2 linked regions of the Homo sapiens genome follow. The protein of the gene in region 1 interacts with the protein of each later gene in a pairwise test. Each region holds a gene or a part of one and is shown in the gene's direction. Other genes may lie near its edges. The genes, in order: ROPN1L and AKAP5.

What was found.
Region 2: the proteins of ROPN1L (region 1) and AKAP5 interact in binary tests that used the Homo sapiens proteins (3 or more experiments, as listed by UniProt).

Annotation. Positions count from the first base shown.
Region 1 is NC_000005.10:10,444,690-10,448,509, forward strand, and holds part of ROPN1L (ropporin-1-like protein), read left to right. Parts: intron 1-3,570; coding exon 3,571-3,694; intron 3,695-3,820. UniProt on the Homo sapiens protein: Functions as part of axonemal radial spoke complexes that play an important part in the motility of sperm and cilia. Important for male fertility.
Region 2 is NC_000014.9:64,468,179-64,471,750, forward strand, and holds part of AKAP5 (A-kinase anchor protein 5), read left to right. Parts: 5' UTR 1-216; coding exon 217-1,500; 3' UTR 1,501-3,572. UniProt on the Homo sapiens protein: Multivalent scaffold protein that anchors the cAMP-dependent protein kinase/PKA to cytoskeletal and/or organelle-associated proteins, targeting the signal carried by cAMP to specific intracellular effectors.

The DNA of each region.
Region 1 (3,820 bases):
GGAGTTCGAGACCAACCTGACCAACATGGTGAAACCCCATCTCTACTAAAAATACAAAAATTAGCTTGGTGTGGTGGCACGCATCTGTAGTCCCAGTTACATGGGAGGCTGAGGCAGGAGAATTGTTTGAAACCGGGAAGCAGAGGTTGCAGTGAGCCAAGATCGTGCCACTGCACTCCAGCCTGGATGATAGAGCAAGACTCCATCATAAAAATAAATAAATAAATAAGAGACTTAATCAGGAACTTTCCGAATGTACCATGCTACTAATTTCTCTCAAGAGCCATTTATTTATTTATTTTTTAGATAGAGTCTTTTTCTGTGGCCCAGGCTGGAGTGCACTGGTGCTATCTAGGCTCACGGCAACCTCTGCCTCCTGGTTCAAGCAATTCTGCCTTAGCTTCCCAAGTAGCTGGGATTACAGGTGCGTGCCACCACGCCCAGCTAATTTTTGTATTTTTAGTAGAGACGGGGGTTTCACCATGTTGGCCACGCTGGTCTGGAACTCCTGACCTCAAGTAATCTGCCCTCCTGGCCTCCCAAAGTGGTGGGATTATAGGCTTGAGCCACCGCGCCTGACCAAGAACAATTTGTGAGTTTAGGAGAAAACCCAGGTATTATTCATTCGGCAGTATATATGTAATTGTAGGTTCAAATATGTTTCAGCTGTCACAGGACAGAATCTGTTAGGGAGAGCTATTCAAAAGTAACTTGAGTAAGGCGGGACTTGGTAAGTGCAAAAATGAAGGGTCACGAAAGTTAAGCAAAGTAGTGGCTTGGTCCTTGAGAGATTTTGTAGGCAGAGAGATTGGGGCTTGGGTGGGGTGGAGAGGATTCCAGGAAGAGGAAGCAGCACAGGAAGAAGGGGGTGGAGACAGGAAAAAGAAAAACCATCAAAACCAAAACAGGAAACCAGGATACCCACGGACATAACTGCTATAGAACAAGCAAGTAGGCTGAGCACGGTGGCTCACACCTGTAATCCCTACATTTTGGGAGGACGAGGCGGACAGGTTACTTGAGCTCAGGAGCTCGAGACCAGCCTGCACAACGTGGCAAGACCTTGTCTGTACTAAAAATAAAATTAGCCGGCCATGGTGATGCATGTCTGTAATCCCAGCTATTCAGGATGCTGAGGCAGAAGGATCACTTGAGCCCAGGAGTTGGAGGCTTCAGTGAGCCATGTTCACAACACTCTACTCCAGCCTGGGTGACAGAGCAAGAGCCTGTCTAAAAAAGAAAAAACAAACAAACAAAAAAGATGAAGCAAGTAGGCATTCCTCTTTCCTCAGGTTAGGGTTCTTTTCAAAGGTGCTTTTCAGGTGGGCAAATATCAAAGATGAGCCAGCCTCCCCCTAAGCCTGTGGACTCCACTGTGAGGGGAGTCGGCTGTTCCTTATGACACCATTGTGCAGTTGTGCCTCACACAGGACAATGAACATAAGAATCAGTCAAGTAATAGAGGCTGCTTTGGTTGGCGTGTGCCTCAAGGAACTGGCAGAGGCTAACATTAGTTGGTCTCACCTCAAAAGCAGGCATTTCCAGCCTCGGCCCTACTGACAGTTGGGGAGGGCACAGGAGGAAGGGGCATCTTGTGCATGATGGGACTTAGCAGCCTCCTGGCCTGCACCCACTGGATGCCTGGAGTACCATCCACCCTCTGTTGTGACAATCAAAAATGTCTCCAGGCCGGGTGCGGTGGCTCACGCCTGTAATCCTAGCATTTTGGGAGGCTGAGGCGGGTTGATTGTCTGAGCTCAGGAGTTTGAGACCACCCTGGGGGCAACATGGTGAAACCCCGTCTCTAATAAAATATAAAAAATCAGCTGGGCTTGGTGATGCACATGTGTAATCCCAGCTACTCAGGAGGCTGAGGCCGGAGAATAGCTTGAACCTGGGAGGTGGAGGTTGCAATGAGCTGAGATGGCGCTACTGCACTCCAGCCTAGGCCACAGAACGAGACTCTATCTCAAAAAAAAAAAAGCGTCTCCAGAAATTGCCAAATGCCTTTTGGCTGGGGAGGAGGGTGGCGGGTGGGGGAAAGAGGAGGAGCATTATCCCCCACTGAGAACTCTGCCTCCAGAGGCTGTATCTAGCTCGGGATTCCTTGCCTGAGTTATGAGGAGTTACCCCCATGAAATAGGTGAAAACCTTGATTAGTAGGAATGTGGCAAAACGAGGCACCTATTCTTCACCCACACCCTTTAGGTCTTTAGGTTCACATTTGTCTAACTCACTGCTGCCTTCAAATCATTAACAAAGCCACAAAATGGAGCTGAAGTTGTCTTACAAAGCAAGGAAACAAAGTCAAATTTGAGGGGTGTAAAGAGAGAGAAAGGATGAGATATGAAGTTTATTTTAGTCTATCAGATATCGACTTATCCATATTTATCTGTAGCAATGTTTCTAACTACCCATGGCTTTAAAATTGTTATCTGTGGCCCTGGTGGATGCTTTGATGTTCATTTGCCTGGATATGCTGTCTCTTTTCATCATGCTAAAGTCATTAGGGCCCCAAATGATGTGGCTTCAGCATCGCCACCTCTGGCAAAGATACCAAGGGGCGTGAGTTTCTCAGAAGGTCTTGCCTGGCACCCCTCCCACCACGAGCCAGAGGCTGGGTGTGGGTTCCCTCTTGACTTATTGCCCCAACAGTTTCCCACTCTTGCCCCCAACATAAGCAGCAATATCAGTGTCCCAGAAAGGAACAATTAAGGGGAACAATACCAGGCAGGAAAAGTGGGGGTGGGGGGATGGGAGCCAGGCCAGCACCTGCCATTCCCAGTGTGGAAGTAGGTGACCTGTGTGTTCCTGGGCTGCCTCAGGGTTGAATATGCAGAGACGCTTAAAGTCAAGCACCTCAAAAAGCAGCAAGACCAAACCCACCTGTCAAAAGTGGGAAGACGGCCAGGCACAGTGGCTCACGCCTATAATCCCAGCACTTTGGGAGGCCAAGCTGGGAGGATCACTTGAGGCCAGGAGTTCCAGACCAGCATGGGCAATGGAACAAGACCACATCTCTGTAAGAAATAATTAAAAAGATTAGCCAGGTGTGGTGGTGTGTGCCTGTAGTCCCAGCTACTCAGGAGGCTGAGGCGGGAGGATCCCTTGAGCTTGGGAGGTTGAGGCTACAGTGAGCCATGATTATGCCACTGCACTCCAGCCTGGGTGACAGAGTGAGACCCTGTCTCAAAAAATTTAGGAAAAAAAAAGAAAGAATAATACATGGAACTCCAGCTGATTGTGAAGTGGCAGGGAGGAGGGGAAGAATCACACATGTTGAAGGAGCTTCTGCGAGTGCCAGCCACTGCGCCAAGCCCTTCTCACACAATGCTCCCCAACCCTCCAACAGGGAGTCTCATTATCCCCTTTGCCAACAGAGAAACTAAGGCAGGCAGAGAAGGTTAAGTCAGAGAACCAAGTGGAGGAACCAGGACATAAGCCCGGGATGTTGGTCTTCAGAGCTGTCCTTCCTAATCACCGTTGTTTTGGGGGGTTATTTAAGAAATTGGATCGCATAGCTGTTTTTTGTGTATTGATGAGCTTTCAGAGATGTCTGTTATTTATTAGCTATTTTTCAGCTCTGTCGAGAGGAGATCCACTTCCTGTAAAGGACAGAATGGAAATGCCCACGGCAACCCAGAAAACAGACACAGGCCTGACTCAAGGACTCCTGAAAGTTTTGCACAAGCAGGTATGGGGGGGCGTAGTCTCTGGCCTCAGGCAGCTGGCCTGTGCTTTCCTTACCGTTCACTGTGCATTGATGACAGAGCGGGGCACACCCCAGCAATGTATTTCAAACCTCCTGAGGTCCCTGAAA
Region 2 (3,572 bases), on another chromosome or scaffold:
CAAGAAATTAAAGAGAGAAATTACAAGCCATAGAGAAACTGGGCATTTCTATACTAGAGAAACCACCTAAAACAACTGTATGGAGTAAGATGAAAGGTATGAATATGCCTGGAAGAAATTTTACCTAGTGTGACATTTTTGCTCATCTTTTTGTCACAAAAGGCTGCTAAGGAAGAGAGAATACAGTTTTCTAGAGAATAAGAGTGCAGTGTAAAAATGGAAACCACAATTTCAGAAATTCATGTAGAAAACAAGGATGAGAAGAGATCAGCAGAAGGTAGTCCTGGGGCTGAAAGGCAGAAGGAAAAGGCATCCATGCTTTGCTTCAAGAGAAGAAAGAAAGCAGCCAAAGCACTGAAGCCCAAAGCTGGCTCTGAAGCTGCTGATGTGGCAAGGAAGTGTCCACAAGAAGCAGGAGCTTCTGATCAGCCAGAGCCCACACGGGGGGCCTGGGCCTCACTCAAACGTCTTGTAACACGCAGGAAAAGGTCAGAGTCTTCAAAGCAGCAAAAGCCATTGGAGGGTGAAATGCAACCTGCAATAAATGCTGAGGATGCTGATCTTTCTAAGAAAAAGGCAAAATCTAGACTTAAGATTCCCTGCATAAAATTCCCAAGAGGGCCAAAAAGGAGTAATCATTCCAAAATTATAGAAGACTCAGACTGCAGCATCAAAGTCCAGGAAGAAGCTGAAATTTTGGATATACAAACACAGACCCCATTGAATGATCAGGCAACAAAGGCTAAGTCAACCCAGGATCTAAGTGAAGGCATCTCACGGAAAGATGGTGATGAGGTCTGTGAATCAAATGTGAGCAATAGCACAACTTCTGGAGAGAAAGTGATTTCAGTAGAACTTGGATTAGATAATGGGCATTCTGCTATTCAAACGGGAACTCTAATCCTTGAAGAAATTGAAACGATCAAGGAAAAACAAGATGTTCAACCCCAGCAAGCAAGCCCACTTGAAACTTCAGAAACAGACCATCAGCAGCCAGTACTTTCTGATGTTCCTCCTTTACCTGCAATTCCAGATCAACAAATTGTGGAAGAAGCCAGTAACAGTACCCTAGAAAGTGCACCAAATGGAAAAGACTATGAAAGTACAGAGATTGTAGCTGAAGAAACTAAGCCAAAAGATACTGAATTGAGCCAAGAATCAGATTTTAAAGAAAATGGGATCACTGAAGAGAAATCCAAATCAGAAGAAAGCAAAAGAATGGAGCCAATTGCTATTATTATTACAGACACTGAAATCAGTGAATTTGATGTTACAAAATCTAAAAATGTCCCTAAGCAATTCTTAATTTCAGCTGAAAATGAGCAAGTAGGGGTTTTTGCTAATGATAATGGTTTTGAGGATAGAACTTCAGAACAATATGAAACACTCTTAATTGAAACAGCCTCTTCTCTAGTCAAGAATGCTATTCAGTTGTCAATAGAACAGCTGGTTAATGAAATGGCCTCTGATGATAATAAAATAAACAATCTTCTACAGTGACTTACTCTCCAGAGTCACGGCAGAAAAAACAAGCTTAATGAAGAATTCTTTTATACATTTGTGGCATTTCTTACTCAGTAACAAATGAGAGATTTATCATCTCTAGAACTTAAAAGGTACAATTCCAGCGCAGAAGTGCTAAAGATTAAGTCAAGTTTATAAAACTCTACCACTGAAATGCAGTCACTTCTGGATTGGAGGAAGTCAGCACAGATTGCAGTGTAAAATGACATAACATACAGGGAGTTGCTAAAATGGCATATGGAGATTGGAGTGCTTTGGGGGAGGAAGGTGTATTTATTGAGCACTTATGGTATGCCATAAGCTTTTTAATGACCTCTGATATAACAAAGTCTGGTTTCCTTTTGATAATTCAGCTCTGTGTATAGGCTAACATCACATTAAGTTTTTAAAAACTTATTTTTTACAGTGCACATATATGTTTAAAATGGTGAATAAGGTGAGCTACTTTTGTGAATGTGATTTGTAATTGTTACATTCCTAAGCAGCAGGCTTAACTCAAAAAATACATTGCATTTTCCCAATTTCAGCAGATAGTGTGCAGAATATGCATATTGATATTAAACGTGAGTGGTTTCCTAGTCTTAAGTCTCTTATAAGCGCTATTTGGCCAGGGGCAGTGGCTCACGCCTATAATCCCAGCACTTTGGGAGGCCAAGGCGGGTGGATCAGCTAAGGTCAGGAGTTCGAGACCAGCCTGGCCAATGTGGTGAAACCCCATCTCTACTGAAAATACAAAAATTAGCTGGGCGTGGTGGTGCACGCCTGTAATCCCAGCTACTTGGGAGGCTGAGGCAGGAGAATTGCTTGAACCCGAGAGGTGGAGGTTGCAGGGAGCCAAGATTGCACCACTGCACTCCAGTCTGGGCAACAGAGCGAGACTCCTTCTCAAAAAAAAAAAAAAAAAAAAAGAGAACCATTCACAAATCCTTCAATCAGGCAAATTGTTACTAAGTGCAAAAGTGTAGAAACAGGGAGAGTGGGTTTTTCCCCCGCTTTTCTTTCTGCCTCAACAGATCTGTATATATCCATTTCTGCATGGATTTATCTGTGAAAAGTTAAAAAATGAAACAGCAAAAACAAAACAAGGGGAATATTATTCTTCATCCAGGAGAAGGGAAAATTCCCAAGTAAATTATCACAGATAATATAGGATTCATCTTGCAGAATTACTTCTTTAAGAGCCATATTCATCAACTTCTCTCCAAAGAGGGGAGAGTAGATTCAAAGCCAGCCTGGTAGTAATGGTCCTGGAAAATCCTAATAATCTAGTGCAAATATTTATTCTCGGCCAAAAATGAGCCATGAATGTGGGTGAATAGAAAAGTGAAAAGTTATTGCTAAAGCACATTATAATTTAAATGTCAGTATTCCTTCATGTCTGTGTGTTGAGACCAGTAAAAAGCATTTTACATGAATATTGAAAGTTAACTTTTTCATCACTATTTTCTTTTCTTTTTTTTTTTTTTTTGAGATGGAGTCTCACTCTGTCGCCCAGGCTGGAGTGCAGTGGCGCGATCTTGGCTCACTGCAAGCTCCACCTCCTGGGTTCACACCATTCTTCTGCCTCAGCCTCCCAAGTAGCTGGGACTACAGGCGCCCACTACAACGCTCGGCTAATTTTTTGTATTTTTAGTAGAGATGGGGTTTCACCGTGTTAGCCAGGATGGTCTTGATCTCCTGACCTCATGATCCTCCCGCCTCGGCCTCCTAAAGTGCTGGGATTACAGGCATGAGCCACCGCACCCGGCCTTCATCACTATTTTCAATCCAGATATACTTTACAAAAATGAGAAGGGCTTATTTGCATTTTTATTTACATATTGAAAGGGAAGCATCTGATCTCATCAATGATTGCCATATTTTTTGAAAAAGTAATCCTATTTCAATCTTTCCTTGTGTGAAATGGCCATAATACCAGAGTGCACTTCCCTACCTCACAGGTTAGGATTCAAAGTGTGTATTCCCCCATTGTGTAAATTGAGTGATTGTGTTACTACTTGAAACAGATGAAGTAATAAAGATGAAGTATGAGATGTAAGGTATTTGTT